2 separate regions of the Homo sapiens genome follow, and region 1 is linked to region 2. Evidence: fine-mapped expression QTL. A gene starts in region 2. The other region holds a variant in brackets. All regions are shown on one strand. Distances are between the middles of the regions.

What was found. PIP is the estimated chance that this variant, and not a neighbour inherited with it, causes the effect.
Region 1: its variant is fine-mapped to the expression of RNASE6 in whole blood (TOPMed, PIP above 0.99). The same link has a PIP of 0.9 or more in blood mononuclear cells.

Annotation. Positions count from the first base shown.
Region 1 is chr14:20,711,064-20,721,313 of GRCh38, forward strand. It overlaps LOC124903282 (a long non-coding RNA gene), which reads right to left and starts at 4,660. Exons shown (of 2, transcript XR_007064061.1): 1 at 2,018-4,660; 2 at 1-655. It also overlaps the pseudogene RANBP20P. The variant C/T (reference allele first, on the strand shown) is at 4,407.
Region 2 is chr14:20,775,698-20,785,947 of GRCh38, forward strand. RNASE6 (ribonuclease A family member 6) reads left to right here and starts at 5,571. Exons shown (of 2, transcript NM_005615.5): 1 at 5,571-5,641; 2 at 5,998-6,770. The coding sequence starts at 6,003. The coding sequence ends at 6,455. The region is part of intron 1 of LOC107984671 (a long non-coding RNA gene); the gene reads right to left. RefSeq lists an enhancer at 6,646-6,715.

The DNA.
Region 1 (10,250 bases), 65 kb before region 2:
CACTCATGTGTGCATTCTTCATTTCATTCAGTGTAGTGGAGTTTAAATTCTGACAAGTTTAAATGGAGTATTAAGGTCCCAAGTAAATATGTTTCTTGAGTGGCCTGCTTTGCAGCTTTATCAGCCACTTGATTCCCTTTGGTTATTGGGGAGTCATCCTTTTGGTGGCCTTGGCAGTGCATAATAGCAACTTGAGTTGGCAGAACAACTGCCTCTGACAAAGCTAAAATTTCCAGCAGGTGTTTAATGTCTTTATTTCTTGAGGTTAAGAATCCCCTTTCTTTCTGAATGACCCCACGGGCATACACTACCAAGAAGGCATACTTGGAGTAGGTGTAAATGTTTACCCATTTCTCTTGAGACTGTTTTAAGGCCCTGATGAGAGCAATCCATTCAGCTTTTTGTGCTGAAGTACCAGCAGCGGGGACATAGGCTTCTACTACTTTGTCTAGGGTCACTGGAGCATACCTGGCCTGGCGTTGTCCTCCTTCTGTGAAACTGCTTCAGTCAGTGTATAGCTCCCAGTCCGGAGTGGCCATCAGATGATCTGACAGATCTGGTCTGCTGGAATAGACTGCATCAAGAATTTCTAAACAATTATGCTCCAGTTCATAGTTGGACTCAGTGGCTGGGAGCAAGGTGGCAGGATTCAAGACTGTGGTGGTTTGGAGAAAACATTTCTGTTATCTAATAGGCTGGCTTGGTATTTGCCCATATGCCCCGCTATCATCCAGTAACCTCCCTTTTGTTACAATAAGGTTAACACTTGATAAGGCACAAATGCAGTAATGGGCTGTCCTAGGGTGAATTTTTCTGCTTCCTGTAAGATATCACACGTAGCTGCCACGGCCTGAAGACAAGGTGGCCATCCTCTGGTAATCTGCTCCAGTTGTTTGGGAAAGTAGGCTATGGGTTGTGGGGAATTCCCACGTAGTTGAATTAGTATTTCCTGTCCTGTGCCCTGGTTTTCATGGATATAGAGTCTAAATAGCTTTCAAGAATTGGGCAGTCCTAATGCTGGAGCTGACACTATTTTTTTTTTTTTTTTTGATGGTATCAAATGCCTGAAGGCATTCAGCCATCCAGTTTAGGGCTCCTGAATCTAATCCCTTTAGAGCCTTGTAGAGAGGTTTGACTATGAGTCCAAAATTAGGGATTCAGATTCAGCAGAAACCTGCCACACCTAAAACCCCCCACAGTGTCTTCCATTCCCAGGGGCCTTTATTGCTGCTATCACCTGTTTCTGGTTGGACATCAAGCTCTGCTTTCCTTGTTTTTAGTCAGAAGCCAAGATAGGTCACTTCTTGTTTACAAATCTGAGTTTTCTGAGGTGATATGTTACGTCCGTATTATATCAAATAATTTAAGATTAAGATAGTGTTAGATAGGCACCTCTCATAGTCTTGGCTTGCGATTAACAAGTCATCCAAGTATTTTAGCAGAACCCCATCATCTAGTTGAAAATCTCTGAAGCCCTTTGCCAATATTTTGCCAAAGATGGTGGGTGAGTTTTTAAAACCTTAAGAAAATACAGCCTAACAATATTGGAAGGTGTTTTTTGTTTCCAGGTCTTGCCACTCAAAGGTGAACAGCATCTGGTCCCTCTCTTCAATCAGGATGCAAAAAAAAAAAAAAAAAAAAAAGTATCTTTTAAGTCTAATACCGAAAACTACCCATACTGCCCTGGTTTATCAGTTAGTAAGGTGTAAAGGATGGGCATAGTTGGGTGAATGTCTTGAACAATGTCATTAATGGTTCCCAAATCTTGTACAAATCAATATTCATTTGAGTGTGGGTTTTTAACAGTCAGGATAGGGGCATTGTATGGAGATCTGTAAGGACATATTTGTCCATTTTTTAGAAACTTCTGTAATATAGGTTGTATCCCCTCTAAAGCCTCTCTTTTTAGAGGGCACTGTGTTTGGGGAATACCTTAGCCCCTTCATTTATTTCTGTGCACACAGGCTGTGTATTTTCAGCACTACCTGTGGTCCCATCTGCCCTCATGACTACTTACTTGCTCACAGATTGCTGGCAGGAGGCATTCTTTTTCTTCCTCGGGGTGTGTGAGCAGCATCTGCAGCTGCAAAGCTTGCTCTGGCAGGACCTGCAGATGAAGTTGTTGTTTTTCTGGAGAAAAACGTCACATGGCAATTTAGTTTACAAAGCAAATCTCACTCCAGCAAAGGAATTTGGTATTCCAGCATATAGAGGAAACTGTGTCTCAGCTCCAGATCTCTGTGTCCGGCAGTCTCCAGACTCTCCAGGGTCTGGAGAAAGGCTGTTTGCTGCATCTTGCCAGCGACAACCATCACAGGCACTGTTTTCCTAGTACTTTCAGTTTCTTTAGTGTTTCTACCTGAATAAGTCACACCAGTATTGATTAAAAAGTCAATCAATTTGTTCCCCATTGTCAATCGTACCTGAGGTTCCTGTGGGGAAATTACAACCTGCTCCAAAAGATTTGGGCCTCCTTCACTATCTGAGCTACAGTCCTGCTTTACCATCAGCCAGTATGTTTCTTCTCTGTCACTGTGTCTCCCTTCTTCTGGTTTCCCTGTCTTTTCTTTAATTTGGGGCACTCAGATTTCCAATGACCTTCCTCCTTGCAGGGGGCAGACTGATCATTACCTAGAGTTTTGTTCTGGCCACCTCCCTGTGCCTGGTTTTTCCTTTTCGGATATACATTCTTTCCACTAATTCCAAGTATATCATGGCTTGCTTTAGCTTTTTGGCCTTCCTGGCATTATATACTCTGAAGGCAATGTCCAGCAGTTGGGAAAGGTTTATTCCAAATACCCCCTCCAGTTTCTGCAGTTTTCGTTTAATATTGGATGAAAGTCACGTTTACCATTCTCATATTCTCAGGAGCTTCTGGATCATAGTCCATACACTTGTGGTAAACCTGGTAAATGCACTCCAGAAATTCACAGGGGTTCTCATCTGCCTTTGGGAGAACTGCCCTGGCTTTATTTAAGCTCTTTTACATTCTTCTCTTTAACCCTGCCAACACATGCTTTTTATAATGACTGGACAGGGCCATTCCTCCATTGTTGGGGTCCCAAGTAAAATCTGCAAGTGGAGCAGCCATTTCTATTCCTTCCCCATCCTGGGGAGAGGAGCTGACACCTTGGCCTCTCCGGGTCCTGGGCTACATTTGGTAATCCTGGGAGGGCTGGTGCCCCCAGTACCACATGGGAGGGGAAATTTAAGATATTTATGAGGCCCATATCATCAATATCCTCTTCCTTTTGGGTCTTACTATCTGGAAAGAGAAATCTCTTTTTCCCTTTTCTCTACGTCATTCACATAGACCCCTCATGTGCTGAGTCTTTGTTATGTAATAAATGCTTAAACACATGGAATCTCATTTCATTTCCCAGATCTTAGGCAAAATAACGCCAACTGTAATAAGGTGTACTAATGTAAATCACTGTTCAGTAGCCACCATTTTTCAGATTCCAACACATACATAGGCCAAACAGTGTTACAATGAAAAAAAATCATTATCTTTTTTGTTATGAGTTCATAGCTATAAGCTTTCCAATAAGCCAATATACAGCCCAATGGCCACTTAGATGGAATGGAAGTCAAGTTGCCCATTCTCAGGGGAGAGATCAAAAGAACACAAACACACAGATCAACACAGAGTACTCCTGAACCAATTCCTGTAGAAGGAGACTGGGAAGTTAATAAATCTTAGGCTAACTGATACTGCAAAAGACCTGTGTCAGGTCCAAATGGCATAAAGCCCAAATGGCAGAGACAGAGGATTTCTAGCATGCAAACTGGTTTGATTTACCCAGTCTTGAATCCTGTCAACTTCCTCAACTATCATTTTCCTTATACTAATAAAGCATTGCAGGCAGCTGATGCCACAGAGGGGGAAGGAGGGAAAAGATGTTCTTGGCAGCTGCTGGGACAACCCTAGAATCCCAGCTGGGAGGTCAGCTAGCCACGAGCAGCTAATCCTCATGAGAAGTTGTTGCTCTGCCTGGTAGCATGAATGAGTAAGCCCTGGCATGATGCCACAGCCAATTGCTCCATCCATCGGAAACCAGGCACGCTAGACCAGTAGAGACATATAGCCCCATGCTGGGTGATAAAAAATGTAACCAAACTGTTGGAAGTAAGTGCTCGGTGCCACAGAGTGAAAATAGCACTCAGGCAAAAATTTTCTCAGCAAAGCAATTTACTTCTATAGAAGGGTGCATCTCTCAGATGGAGCAATGGTGAGAGCACACCAGACAAGGGAGGAGAAGGGCGTCTTATTCCTAATGCAGCTAGTCCCTACTGCTGTGTCTTTCCCCTGTTGGCTAGGGTTGGACCACACAGTCTAAGCTAATTCCAGTTGGAAATTTTAAAGAGAGTGAGTGTATGAGCTGGAGTGGTGGGGTGAGTAGTTT[C/T]ATCAGGGAAGGACAGTTACAGAACAGGAGAGTAAGGATGCCTAAGGACAGAACAGGTGATAGAGGCTAGGAGGGGGTTGTTTACTGAAACTAGAGGCAAGGAGGTGTAAAGAACAAGGAAGTTAAACTTCAAAATGGAGAACAAAGAACAGGGAAGCTGAACATACTGACGTATTTGTTCTTTGAAGAGGAACTCAGAACTCATTGTACTTAAATGATTTTTTTCTCCCTCTTGAATTTTTTTTTTTTTTTGAGATGGAGTCTTGCTCTGTCACCCAGGCTGGAGTGCAGTGGTGCAATCTAGGCTCACTGCAAGCTCCGCCTCCTGGGTTCACGCCATTCTCCTGCCTCAGCCTCCTGAGTAGCTGGGATTACAGGCACCCGCCACCACGCCCGGCTGATTTTTTTGTATTTTTTAGTAGAGACAGGGTTTCACCATGTTAGCCAGGATGGTCTCAATCTCCTGACCTCATGTTCTGCCTGCCTTGGCCTCCCAAAGTGCTGGGATTACAGGCATGAGCCACCACGCCCAGCCACCATCTTGAATTTTAAAGGAAGTTAACAGGCTAACTCTGAAGAGGAATTTACTGTATCCTACAATCTCCCCCCTTTCAATTTTCATAGGCCTTCCTCTTCAAACCTTTTTAACATGTCTTGGCTTTGCTGCTTGACTTGATCCTCTAAAAGAAGAAAGCTTTTCTGAATAAGGTGGAGGAAAGTTAAGGGAGGTTTTAGTAGGTGCTGTTTCTTTGCACTGCCCCACGGACGCATGGTATGACACAATACCCAACAAGAATGAGTACACCTATTACGGCTGCAAGAGAAGTAAGAATCGAGGCTATGATCTTTTCCATCTACTGAACCACCTTTCTAGCCATCCTGAGAAAGGGTTATTGACTCCAGAATCTTTAACTAATTCATTGGATAAAGCAGTAAGTCCTTGTAAGACCCTTGTTATGCTCCCAGTGGGGGCAGTGTTGCTTGGGATAAAGGTACAGCCCTGAGTTTTAATCATAACACCAACACTGCCTTTTTCAGCTAATATCACATCTAGGGCCATTCTGTTTTCCCAGGCCATCTGGCTAGTGGGCCCCAATTGTTCTGCTATCCCTTTGACAGCATCCCTGGTGTAATTAATAAACCACTGCTAATTATAATAGACGTAATTTATCCAATCTATGTTTTTATTAATTGTCACCCACAAAATCCTGCAGCTATTTAATCTTGACTCAAATCCTGCAGCTATTTAATCTTGATCTTTAAATTTATCTGGTACTCCTCATGGGACTCCAATTGCATCTAAATAAATGTGGGAGTTGAAAGACCCATAAGGAGCTTCCCTTGTTTTATGATGTTGTATTTTTCCTCTCTCTGGTTGATGAAATGCTAGGGTGGAAGGGATAGCCAATTAAACTAGAGCACAAGTGCTGCTCCAGTTACTTGGCAGAGAGTCCAGTAAAGGTCCACCACAATACCACCATACATATGCTTGGGGATGAACAAGGGCTGACTGATTGGTAAGCTCTTGGAAAGTCTTAAGCTCACTGCATCTTTTTAGGTCTCCAAGGAATGCTAAGTTTCCTCCCTGTAGTGAGAGATATGAAGTGAACTTAGCGTCAGGGGACAGAAGCTGAGTGGACCTTGGGGGCTGACCTGCAGGGTATTGAACCTCAGGATATAGCAGAGAGAGCTTGACACGACTTTTTACCCCAGGCTGTGTAATCCTGGAAAAAAGTAACCATACAGCCCATGCCTAGTAGACTAAAGGACTATCCTAATGGAAAGGGGACAATCTGGGCTTCTGGTCTGCCGTGCGCACAAGCATAACAAATGCTTTTGTTTAAAGTGTGGATGGAATGTTTGATCCACTCCAACCAGGCATTAGCATCTTGATATTCTGTCTCAATTGCCAAAGTTTGTTTTAGGTCTTTAACTTCTATAATAACTACCTTGGTCTTGTCATTAGATGGAGGAGAACAACAGTTTTGTTGTGAGAGCTTCTGGAAGAAGGCTTAAGGGAAGGTGTAGGCGGCAGAGGATCAATGAATTGTGTTTCAAAGGATCTGATAGGGTCTGTTCCTGAAACCTCAGCCCCCACACCATAAAACCGGCTTAAAGAAGGGAACCGGCTTAGAGAAGGGGAAGAGCTTTGAGGGTTTGAGATAATAACCTGTATTGGATTGCACGGTTCAGCTGACAGCTAGGTGAAGCTGTTCCTTTAGTAAAGTGAATATATGACTTTAGGAAATTACAACCACTGGTTGGGGCAGCTCATCCTTGCTCTTTAGTGGTCCACAGAATGTTGGACCAACTGTGGCATAAAAGCTCTGTCTTGCAGGAGCAAGACTCCCAGCTGATACTGGGGTCTTTATTGAAATCTCTCCAGACTAAATGATCCCCATTCACTAATGTCCAGTCTGAGGAGAGCCGGGAAGGACAGAGGTACTTTTCTGAATTGGAGAGCTGTCTTTAACTTGACAAGTCTCCACAAGGTATAACAAGGCAAGCATCAAATGTAATAGTTTGAGGTGAAATTGACTTTGTTACATTAATAATGAGGTGGTCAGCAATAGAATGAGGAAAGAAGAAGGAGTAATAAGAGAGTTAAATTTTTCTTAGCTTGGCTCACGCCTGTAATCCCAGCACTTTGGGAGGTCGAGACAGGTGGATCGTTTGAGGTCAGGAGTTCAAGACCAGCCTGGCCAACATGGTGAAACCCCATCTCTACTAAAAGTACAAAAATTATACAGGCGTAGTGGTACACGCCTGTAATCCCAGCTACTCGGAAGGCTGAGGCGGGAGAATTGCTCGAACCCGGGAGGTGGAGGTTGCAGTGAGTGAAGATCGCACCACTGCACTCCAGCCTGGGCAACAGAGCAAGACTCTGTCTCAAAAAAAAAAAAAATTTCTTAGCTTTAGTTTGGTAGGGTTTTCCCCTGGGACTATGGCCCACGACTCTGGAGGGGGCGGCACTTTCTTGACTTGGGTGTGATAGGTCCATCCTTTTTCTGCTGTCTGGACTGCGCTTTCAGTAGTTAGGAGCACTAGATAAGGTCCTTCCCAGGCCAGTTCCAGCTTTTCCTCCTTCTAGTTTTTGATGAGGACTTGATCCCCGGGCTGATTTCGATGTACTGGGAACTCCAGGGATGGTGCCTGTGCTAAAAGACCTTTAGTTCTAAGGGAAGAGAAAGTGGAAGATAAACCAAGTATATAATGTCTGAGAAACTGATCTTTTGTTTCGAAGGTGGAAATGTCAGCAGTGGAGTGTAAATAGGGCAACCCATATAGCATCTCATATGGGGATAGGCCAACATCTTTTTGAGGGGTGGTTCAGATTCCTAGCAAGGCAATGGGAAGGCATTTAGTCCATGGCAACTGAGTCTTTAAGACTAATTTGGTTAAGTGACTCTTCACGGTTTGATTTATTCTTTCTACTCTTCCCGATGAAGGTGGGTGCCAAGGAGTATGGTATTCCCACGTTATGTCTAGTGCTTGGGCTAATTTCTTAATGATATGTGCAGTGAAATGAGTTCCATTATTTGAATTAATATTTTCAATTTATTTGCCCAGATCCATTGGAGGAACCACTATCTATGACCGCTATAGTCTTATGAAATGTATTTCTGAAGTAATAAGACTTGAAAGCCAAAATTACTCCTTGATCCATGGGCTGCAGAACTGCAGAACGGATGTTGTGTGAGCAGGCATGGAAACTATGGAAATTAATATCTTTGAACATCTCCATCAGAGGCCTTAGGTAACCAAGTGCATTGCCAATCAGCAGTAGTATTTTGAAAGGAATCTTTTTTTTCTGAGCAGGTCTCAATAATGAGCTTAAAATATTCAGTAAACCATGATGTAAACAGATGTGCTGTCAATCAGGCTTTGTTGTTCCATTTATAGAGACAGGCAAAGTAGATTCAGCATAATTCCTAAGGGCCCTAGGATTTTCAAATGATACATGAGCACTGGCTTCAACCTGAAGTCTCCAGTGGCAGGTGCCCCCTGACAAGAGAGTTGGCCTGCCCTCTGAAGCTCTGAAACCAGGCACTGACTCCTCCTCTCTAGCTATGGGAGTCCCAGATGGCACCTTCTTCCACTATAAAGCTGTCTCATCTACACTGAAAATCTGTTGTTTAGTGTGGCCACCTTCATCAATGATCTTATCTAGAGCTTCTGGAGAACTTGCTGCAGCTTCTCCTCAGGACTTGCTGCTTCATCCTGCACTTTTATGTTATGGAGATGGCTTCTTTCCTTAAACCTCACGAACCAACCTGTGTTGGCTTACAACTTTTCTTCTGTAGCTTCCTCACCTCTCTCAGCTTTCAGAGAATTGAAGGGCCTGATCTGGTTTTGACTTTGGCATAAGAGAATGTTGTGGCTGGTTTGGTCTATCCGAACCACTGAAATTTTCCCCGTGTCAACAACAATAAGGCTGTTCTGCTTTCTTATCACTTGTGTGTTCACTAGAGCAGAACTTTTAATCTCCTTCAAGAACTTTTCCTTTGCATTCGCAACTTGACTAACTGGCTCAACAGCATTTGGCCTATCCTAGCTTTTGACACGCCTTCCTCACTAAGCTTAATCATTTCTAGATTTTTAAAGTAAGAGACATGTGACTCTTCCTTTCACTTGAACACATAGAGGTCATTGTAGGGTTACTAAATGGCTCAGGGAATAGGGAGTCCTAAAGACAGGAAGGTGGGGAAGCCGCCAATCAGTGGAGCAGTCAGAACACACACATTTATCAATCAAGTTTGCCATCTTCAGTTTGTGGCACCCCAAAATAATTACAATAGTAACATCAAAGATCACTAACCACAAATTACTGTCAGATATAGTCATAGAAGAAGTTTGAAATATTCTAATAATTACCAAAATGTGACACATGGAAGCACTAAATGCTGTTGAAAAAATGGCGCTGACAGATTTGCTCAATGCAGGGTTGCCATAAGCCTTCAACTTGTAAAAAACACAGTATCTACGAAGTGCTATAAAGGGAAACACAACAAAACGAGGTGTGCCTGCACAACCAATGCCCAACTGTGTGTACCGCCTGAAGGAAAATGTTTCAAAGGTATCACAACTTTTTAGTCTGGAAATCTGAACAATATTTTGGTTTTTCACAGTGAGCATGTGGAACTTATATAACCAAAAAAGTAAAGTTGTATTTGAATGCATGTGGGCTACAAGTAAAAAGGAAGATGAAATAACAGTTTTATAAAGCGGAAAGATTTATGGGTCTAACTCTGTGTCATATTTAGATTTTCTAATAAATGGGTATAGGAACAGAAGGAGAGACAGAGTTAGATAAAAGGTGTAGACGGTAGGCTTTGCTGCTTCGAGAACTTGGTGCTGATTAGAGGTGTGATTGCATTCATGGTAATAGGGATGAGTGTCACGAACTGCTGTGTGTTCTGCTGGTGAGCTTCACTGCAATACTGCACTAACCAGTGAGTGTAAGCCTGCAGCACAGCCAGGGACTGAGCACGTACATCAATGAGGTCAGGTTTCAATACTGATGGCACATCAGTTTCAATGTTGCACAATTTTTTTTTTTCTTTTTTGAGACGGAGTCTTGCTCTCTTGCCCAGGCTGGAGTGCAGTGGCACGTTCTCAGCTCACTGCAACCTCTCCCTCCCTGGTTGAAGTGATTCTCCTGCCTCAGCCTCCCGAATAGCTGGGACTACAGGCACGTGCCACCGTGCCCACCTAATTTTTTGTGTTTTTAGTAGAGACAGGGTTTCACCATGTTATCCAGGATGGTCTCAGTCTCCTGACCTTGTGATCCACACACCTCGGCCTCCCAAAGTGCTGGGATTACAGGCGTGAGCCACCGCACCT
Region 2 (10,250 bases):
GACTCTCCTTAGGTATCTACCCTTCCTCTTTTGTGTGTAGTATTGGTGAGGCTGTCCACTAAGGTCTGCAGTCCCCTCTACTGAGCCAAGCGATGGTTATGAGATCCAAGCTAGCCTAACTGAAGTCTCATAGGAAACAAGAATATGTCACCCCAAAATATGCCTCCAGGTTGAAAGTCCTGTCAATTAGCATTTTTGCTGCTCTGCATCCTTACTGGCTTTGATGATGTCAGTTTTCACTGCATTTTAGTCATTCATGTAGGTGTGTAGTATTATCCCATTGTTTTAATTTGCAATTTTCTAATGACAGATTGAAGGGATTCACAGCCCACCAATATGGCAAAACTGCCCTTGCAGAGTTATGGAGTGTTGCAAGCCAGGCTCTAGGCAGAATTGCACATTAATCATAGCATGCTGGTACACTTCAACCCACTTCCCTGTAGCTTCTAATTTCCCAAGTAGCATGCTGACCACCTACTCCCCGATTGTTCCTATAGGTAGAATCTCCAATACTAGAATCATGAAATCTTTTTGCTTAAGAATTGCTTAAGGTGTTTTTCTGATCCTGAATTCCAGTGCAACAGCTAATGCTAACCAGTCTAAAGACCCCTACCAAGGAACTGGCTTGGCACATGAATGCTGAGTTTCTTCATGTCCCTGTCCCATGACTTCACCTCTCACTTCTTGATGAATCAGAAATGCTCACATTTTGGCCCTTGTCCAGACTCCTTAAAAACCCTATCCCCAAACCCAAAACCAAATTGTAGGTTACCTCCCATCTACTCATTTGGCTGCCCTATGAAAATTAAACTCTCTCTTTTTCAATCCCTGTTTTCTTAATATATCCATTTGTTGTGCATCAAGTAACAAATCTGTTATGATGATAGTGGCATGAAAATTATTTTAAACTGAAAATGTCTGAACAGACAGAAGCTGCAGAAAGAAACACTATTTAAACTTAACCAGAGCCTCTTGAAAATTCAGCTGCCATTGATCCCCTTCAAAGGTATTTTCCTGTTTGAAACGAGACAGCCCCTTAGCACTGGGATGTGTAAATTAGCTTCCATAAACCCCCATACAGGGAAACTTCCAGCCAGGAAGAAATCAATCTACCCATTTCTATTAGCATCAGAAAGCTTACTAGAACCTTCCATATTTTCCTTTTGAAGCCCCAACAAAAATCTTTTATTTTTTATTTTATTTTATTTTTGAGACAGACTTTCACTCTTGTTGCCCAGGCTGGAGTGCAGTGGCGCAACCTTGTCTCACTGCAACCTCCGCCTGCCAGGTTCAAGAGATTCTCCTGCCTCGGCCTCCCGAGTAGCTGGGATTACAGGTGCCCACCACCATGCCTGACTAAATTTTGTATTTTTAGTAGAGACGGGGTTTTACCATGTTGGCCAGGATGGTCTCAAACTCCTGACCTCAGGTGATCTGCCCACATTGGCCTCCCAAAGTGCTGGGATTACAGGTGTGAGCCACCATGCCCGGCCAAATCTTTTTTTAAAAAATAGAGATGGGGGTCTTGCTATGCTGTTGGTTTCAAACTCCATGCCTCAAGTGATCCTCCTGCCTCAGTCTCCCAGAATGTTAGGATTACAGGCATGAGCCACTGCACTTGGCCAAAAACACTTTTTTTAAAGTTGATATATAACTTTACCTCTGGCTATTCAGCAAGTTACGCATTATGTAATACTCCTGTGTGCATGTGTAAATAAACTTTGAATTTTCTCCTATTAATCTTTTTCTAATTCACAAGCTCCTTTACCACCACCTTTAAAACCTAAAATGATAGAGGAAAAGTTTTTCTCCAAACAATGTGATGCTGAACATCTTTTCATTGCTCATCTGCCATCTGTATATCTTGTTTGGTGAAGTGTTGGGGTACAGAGAATCATACTACAAACTATGATGCATGGCATTCTGAGCACTTTTGAATTAAAGAAATTAAATTAAAGAATTAAATTTAACTAGAATTAAAGAATTAAAGAAACCAAAACTTCTTAGAAGCTGCCTCAGGACCAAAGATGTTCTAATCTTCTCTCATTCCTCCCCCAGCTCTCAAATGCAGAGAGGAGCTCTCTCTGGAAGTTCCCTTGTCTGGATAAGGAAAACTTCTTCCAAGAAATGCAATTGTCTTAAGACCCCCCTTTCTAAAAATCTCATCAGATAACCAGGAAATATTAGCCACCTGAAAAAAAGAAGAGACTAGAAGTCTCTTCACACCACACTCAGATAGACCTTTCATCTATTCTTCCAAGAGCAGCTCCAAAAGAGTACCTAAGAGACTTTATCTGTATAATAAGGCAACCTTTGTTCATAGTGCAGTTCCACCCTTCACCTTCCCATAACTCGTCACCCTTCCATTCAGCTTCCAAAGAGACTCATTTACAAACTATTGTCTGCTATTTGGGGCCAGTTCCCTAAAAAATATTTAAAACTCCTCAAAATTGCCTACATTTTCCCCATGTTCCTCTCCCCTATGAAGAGAATACATGAATTTCAACTATTTAGTCTTTCTTTGAGTCTCATAATTTGTATGGTTCCCATGATTATGCACAGTAATAAATTTGTATGCCTTTTTCTCCTGTTAATCTGTCTATTGTCAGTTCATTTCAGAAGTTTTGAACCTTCAGAGGGAGAGGAAAAATTGTCTTTGCCCCATACCATTCAGATGTTTTGCCCATTTTTCAACTAGGTTGTTGGTTTTCTTATGGTTGAGGTTTTTTGAGTTCTTTGTATATTTTGGATAATGTTCTTTTATCAGATATATCTTTTGCAAATATCTTCTCTCAGTCTCTGGCTTATCTTTTTATTCTCTTAATAGTATCTGTTGCAGAGCAGAAGTTTTCAATTTTAATGAAGTTCCACTTATCAATATTTTTCTTTCATGGATTGTGCTTTTGGTATTGTATCTAAAAAATCATTGCCAAACTCAAGGCTGCCTAGATTTTCTTCTATGTTATTTTCTAGAATTTTTGTAGTTTTGTATTTTGCATTAGGTCTATGGTCCATTTTGAATTAACATTTGTGCCAGGCGCGGTGGCTCACGCCTGTAATCCCAGCACTTTGGGAGGCCGAGGTGGGCGGATCACCTGAGGTCAGGAGTTCGAGGCCAGCCTCACCAACATGGTGAAACCCTGTCTCTACTAAAAATACAAAATTAGCTGGGTGTAGTGGTGCATGCCTGTAATCCCAACTACTCCGGAGGCTGAGGCAGGAGAATCACTTGAACCTGAGCGGCAGAGGTTGTGGTGAGCTAAGATCATGCCATTGCACTCCAGCCTGGGCAACAAAAGCGAAACTCCATCTCAAAAAAAAATTGTGAAAGATATAAAGTACAGGTCTATGAAAATGTATGAAGTCTAACCTATGAAAAGATTTATTTTTTGCATGTGTACATTCAGTTCTACTACCATTTGTTGAAAAGACTAACTTTTCTCAATTGAAAATTGATCCTTTGTCACAGATTAGTTCACTGTATTTGTGTGGGTCTACCTCTGGGCTTTCTACTTGGTTCCATTGACCTATTTGTCTATTTTTCACCAATAACACACTGTCTTAATTGCTGTAGCTTTATAGTAAGTTTTGAAGTTGGGTCACGTCAGTTTTCTGACTTTGTTCTTCTTTTTCTGCATTGTGTTGACTATTCTGAATCTTTTTTTTTTTTGAGACAGAGTCTCGCTCTGTCACCCAGGCTGGAGTGCAGTGGTGCGATCTCGGCTCACTGCAAGCTCCACCTCCCGGGTTCAAGCGATTCTCGTGCCTCAGCCTCCCAAGTAGCTGGTACTATAGGCGCCCGCCACCAGGCCTGGCTAATTTTTTGTATTTTTAGTAGAAACGGGGTTTCACTGTGTTAGCCAGGATGGTCTTGATCTCTTGACCTCGTGATCAGCCTGCCTCGGCCTCCCAAAGTGCTGGGATTACAGGCGTGAGCCACCGTGTCCAACCTGAATCTTTTACTTTTATATAAACTTCAGAGTCAGTTTGTCACTATCCACAAAATAATGTGCTGGGATATTGATTGAGATTGTGCTGAATCTATAGATCAAGTTGAGAGGAAATGACATCTTAACATATTGAGTATTCCTACTCATGTACATGGAATATCTGTGCTTCCTCAATTTCTTTCATTAGAGTTTTAAATTTTTCCTCATACCAATTTTTACATAATGTATTAGATTTACACCTAAGTATTTCACTTTCTTTGGTGCAATATAAATGGTATTGTGTTTTAAATATCAAATTGCAATTGTTCATTGCTGGTATATAAGAAAGCAACTGACTTTTGTATATTAACCTTGTATCCTGCAACCTTGCTATAAACAGACATTATGTTTATTCTGCAGACATTTGGAGCCATAAAAGCATGGGGCAAGAGTGTTGTACTATTATATCTTGTTCAAAAAAAGACTAATCTGGAAGTAATATGTAGAATGGATTGGAAGGAGAAAAAAACAAGGCAAGGAGTCCATGTGGGAGGCTTTTATGTGAGCCCTCCATAAGACAATGAGTTTCTGAATAAGGGTGTTGCAGTACCAGTGAAAAGGTAAGAACAGATTCAAGAGGCAAATATCCTAAATTCGGCCTTCTTCTTCAGGCTTACAGGTCTTTTCATACACAATTCTGTCTTTGGGAGGCGCTTAACACTCTCTTCACCTAACTTCTAATTATTCCTCAAAATTCAGTTCAGGTGTTGTGCCCTCCAACAATCCTTCCCCTCTACTATCTTCCCGTAGCCTCCTGCAGTGTCCTCCATCACACTGTAAGTGCTATTTATATTAATATAATCTACTTGTCTATATACTTACCTGCCTGTCTCTAATCTCTTTCATTAAATCATGAGCTCCTGGCAGATCACGAGGTCAGGAGATAGAGACCATCCTGGCTAACACAGTGAAACCCCGTCTCTACTAAAAATACAAAAAAATTAGCTGGGCGTGATGGCAGGCACCTGTAGTCCCAGCTACTCGGGAGGCTGAGGCAGGAGAATGGCATGAACCCAGGAGGTGGAGCTTGCAGTGAGCAAAGATCGCACCACTGCACTCCAGCCTGGGCGACAGAGCAAGACTCCGTCTCAAAAAAAAAAAAAAAAAAAACTCATGAGCTCCTGAATTTGTGTAGCCTAGTACCTGGCCCAATAAGTATATGCATAAATGAATAATGTATTCACTTCTGTTGTAGGAACTTACAACATTACCAAGTATGTGGCAGGCATTATATCATATTTATGTGACATATTTTCTCTTAAGAAACAGGAATCATAAAGCTTCAAAAAAAAACACTGAAGCCTCAGATGAGGCAGGAAGCACTCATTCCATATCAGGAAGTGATCAGTTCCTCAAAACTGTGAGTTTTCAGTCATGTTGTTTCTTTAAGTTGGTTTAGCCTTCCTGTATACATGTGATAATGATACTGTTTTAAAGAACAGGTGTGAAAGTCTAAGAGTTTAATCCAGACTCTGCACAAGAAGTTAATCTGCCAAACCCTAGGATTCTCCTTCTGAAAGCTCAGAATATTTCTTCCCCTTCCCTATACACACAGGGCTCGAAGGGTTAGAGAAGAAAGGCAGACAACAGCTTCTGAGCTTTGGACTAATCACAGCCTCTGTTCTCAGCAGGAGCCCCAACACTGAGACCAGGTAAGAAAGAAAGCCTCAGGGCTGGAGCGAGTAGAGCAGTAAAGACGGCTGGGAGGTAGTGGTCAGATAGAGGGTAAATATTTCAGGAGGGAAGAGGGAAGAAACTTTCTGATATGACAGCCATCAAATGCATGAGTACTTGTGAAAGAAAATGGGATATGCCAATCAAAGGAGAGGTCATATTTCTGTTTCCTGGGCTTCAGGTTCTTCATAGAATTGTGAGACTATGTGAGAAAGAAGATTTTAAAGGGAGCTGTAAAATCTTAAAAGGCAAAATAAAAATCTAAATAGTTATGATTAAAAATTTTGCTCTTATTGCTTCTCCTACTATAACTATCTTCTCTCTTTCTACACAGAAAAGATGGTGCTATGCTTTCCTCTTCTTTTACTGCTGCTGGTTCTATGGGGACCAGTGTGTCCACTTCATGCTTGGCCTAAGCGTCTCACCAAGGCTCACTGGTTTGAAATTCAGCATATACAGCCAAGTCCTCTCCAATGCAACAGGGCAATGAGTGGCATCAACAATTATACCCAGCACTGTAAGCATCAAAATACCTTTCTGCATGACTCTTTCCAGAATGTGGCTGCTGTCTGTGATTTGCTCAGCATTGTCTGCAAAAATCGTCGGCACAACTGCCACCAGAGCTCAAAGCCTGTCAACATGACTGACTGCAGACTCACTTCAGGAAAGTATCCCCAGTGCCGCTATAGTGCTGCTGCCCAGTACAAATTCTTCATTGTTGCCTGTGACCCCCCTCAGAAGAGCGATCCCCCCTACAAGTTGGTTCCTGTACACTTAGATAGTATTCTCTAAGGCATCCACTGCATTTCCTTTCATTTGACATAGCTTCTGTTACAATTGCATCCATGTTTTCTTTTCTTTTGTTGATTTTCTTGTTCCCGTAGAAGAAAGAAGAAAGGTGTTTGGAGAATTCGAGTGCCTAGGATGCCAGACCAGAGTTGAGACAAAAAGAAATAAGATTATTTTCTGCTTTGTAGTTCTGTACTTTTCGAGAGAAGGGAATAGGGAAGACAGCAAAGAAAGATTCAGATTTCTAACCCTGCAACTTTTGCCAAGCTTTATTGCCCTGTGTTCACAGCAATAAAACCACTTCCTGCTGCATTCTAATGAGTGTGTGTTTGAGATCCGCTTTCAAAGCATTGTTGACCGGTACTCAGAGGAACACTGTTTTGACTTTAAGTCCCTAGAAAACTTTTGAGGCCTCCCTGGGGCCCCACTTCCTTGCCCACAAGAAAGGACAGCGTTTGGGACTTTGGAGCATTTCTTCAAACTCTGCTCATGACTTTATATATTCCCCTGGAAACCATTGTCTATGCTTAATTGGAGGTAGTACTGATACCTCAAAGACAGTTGATGATAACTCACACATAGATTCTGTCACTGGCAACTGAAGGATCCTATGTCTTTTCTATTTGTTTCCGTTTTTAATCAGATAATGTTTTAAATATAAGGTGATAGTAGTAGTAATAGGGATAATAATCCATTGTAGTAACCTTAGGGTCAATCCTCCATTATTTATTGAAATGGATAAATAGAAAGCATAGATCAAGAAAAAAGCACTAGGCTTGTCGTGGTGGCTCACGCCTGTAATCCCAGCACTTTAGGAGGCTGAGGCAGGTGGATCGTCTGAGGTCAGGAGTTCAAGACCAGCCTGGCCAACATGGTGAAACGCTATCTCTACTAAAGATACAAAAAAAGTAGCTGGGCGTGGTGGCAGTGCCTGTAATCCCAGCTACTCGGGAGGCTGAGGCAGGAGAATCGCTTGAACCCAGGAGGTAGAAGTTGCAGTGAGCAAATATTGTGTCACTGCACTCCAGCCTGGGCAACAGAGTGAGACTCCCATCTCAAAAACAAAAAAAGAAAAAGAGAAAAGCACCAGGAGACCCAATGCAGTGGCTCACACCAGTAATCCCAGCACTTTGGGAGGCCGAGGCAGGCAGACGACTTGAGGCCAAGAGTTTGAGACCAGCCTGGCCAATGTGGTGAAACCCCATCTCTACTAAAAATACAAAAAATTAGCCAGACATGATGGCAGGAGCCTGTAATCCCAGCTAATCAGGAGCCTGAGGCAAGAGAATCGCTTGAACCTGGGAGGCAGAGGCTGTAGTGAGCCGAGATTGCACCACTGCACTCCAGCCTGGGTGACAGAGCGAAACTCCCGTCTCAAAAAAAAAAAAAAAAAAAGGAAAGAAAGAAAGAGAAAAAAGCACTAGGAAACTAAAAACATTCTAGTCCTATGTAAATACTGAAATACCACAGAAGTATTGGGGTTTTGGAACAGAACCTGAACTAAGCCATTTCACAGAAGGAACTTCAGTTTCCTTGTCAACCTCTAGAGTCATTGGGCTAGTGGGCCAGTGTAAATCCCAAGTGCTTTGTACAGTGATGAGTCTTCAAGTAGCAGCCAAAGACAATGAAGTTTTTTTGAAAAGGCTACATATTGTAGTGTCTTCATTACCTGTGCTGCAAATGATTCTTTCCAAGCCAGACTATTAGTTTAATAGATATGCTAACTCAGCTCACCTTCCTTTACGCTACACATTTATGTCATATCTTAGGAACAAAGAATGGAATATGAGGTTTCAGGAGCCTGGATTCCAGGGTGATGACTGATCAAGGGCCCTCCCATTGGGAAGAGATTAGCAGGTCAGGGCAATATGGCACCTAAGAAGGTGGGTACCTTATAGAGGGAATCCTACAGTGGGACTTGAGTGCTCTAACTCAAAGCAGCTTTCAGTTGTATTCAGCTTTAAGCCATGTTGCATTTACATTTTATTGTCTCAGAGTCTTCATGTAAAGTGTGGTGGAATGGCAGGGAGAATCTGTGCTCACGTTTGGTATGAACAAGTATACGAAAGTAGCAGCATCTGAAAGGAAAGGGGTTGAATGGATTTATATGAACATTACCTGGAAATTGCCAGAGATTCTTAAAGGTAATCTAGTAAAACCAAACAACTCAATTGCTCATGCTATTGTTATTTATATAGTAAAGGTATCTCATGGATTGAATACATCTGTGCTGCAAAAATTTTTCAACTGTCAGAAACATTAGGGAACATGAAATGTTACTTAAAATTAGTGAAATAAATTGTGAGGTCTAAAATACTGCAAATATTTTGTAACAAATGGTTAAAAACAAAAATATAATGAGTGCCATCTTTTGAAGAGATTTGCAGCAACAATATCTAATCTTCCCCACCCTCCCATGACAAACCTATCCCCAACAACAATTAGAGTCACTTTTTGTTGCTGATCAAGGAAAAGGCAACAATGAGGGTAACTTTTCAACAATCTATTATGCCCAAACTTTTAGAAGGTATTAGTTCTAAACAAGTGGAATAGACTGGGATGGAATCTCTCATAGATTTATTTTCTTTTCTACATGCAGTTATGTATTGCAGAAGTTCAATACATAATTGCTAAGAAGTTCACTTAGATATATCCCTAGAATATACAGAATGATCCCAAAGCAGGCAAAGCTTAGAAGTGAATTCAGCAGATGTTCTAGCAGCTCTCAACTCTGGCTTCATATTAGATTCACCTGGGAGCTTTTAGAAAAATACCAATGACGGGATCTACTAAATAAATTTTATGAACATTTAATGAACAATTAAATGAATATCTGGGGGTGAGACCTGGGCTCTAATGGATGTTTGTTAAAGATCCCCATGTAATTGTAATGGGCAGCAAATATTGGTAACAACTGTTGATGCAGGGGTAAGCAAACTACATCTGCAGACCTCTGGCCTGCCGCGCCTATTTTATACTGCCTGGAGTAGTGTGGTTTTTACTTTTATTTTTTTTTTTGAGATGGAGTTTGGCTCTGCCGCCCAGGCTGGAGTGCAATGGCTGGATCTCGGCTCACTGCAACCTCCACCTCCTGGATTCAAGCGATTCTCCTGCCTCAGCCGCCTGAGTAGCTGGGATTACCCGCCACCACGCCCAGCTAATTTGTTTGTTTGTTTGTTTGTTTGTTTGTTTGTTTTTTGAGACGGAGTCTCATTCTGTCGCCCAGGTTGGAGTGCAGTGGCGCGATCTCAGTTCACTGCAAGCTCTGCCTGCCGGGTTCACGCCATTCTCCTGCCTCAGCCTCCCGAGTATCTGGGACTACAGGCGCCCGCCACCACGCCCGGCTAATTTTCTGTATTTTTAGTAGAGACGGGGTTTCACCGTGGTCTTGATCTCCTGACTTCGTGATCCACCCGCCTCGGCCTCCCAAAGTGCTGGGATTACAGGCGTGAGCCACCGTGCTTGGCCGATTTTTACTTTTTTAGGGGGAGAAGAAAAAGGAGGAGGAAGAGGAGGGGGGGAAGAACAGGAAGAAGGAAGGAGTAGAGACGTGAGGGAGGGGAAGGAAGGGGAAGAAGAGGAAGAAGAAGGAGAGGAAGTGACACAGACCCTATGTGTTCCACAAAAGTGAAATATTTACTGTCTGGTCCTTTATAGAACAAAGTGTGTTGATTCCTGGTCTTCTAGACTATTCAATGGATCTTGTCCTTTGGCTGTGGCTGAGGCAGGTGGCTGGAATTCAGTAGGAAGGACGACACCTGGCAGGCTGAGAATTTTGAACTGGGGCCTCAGGAAAGT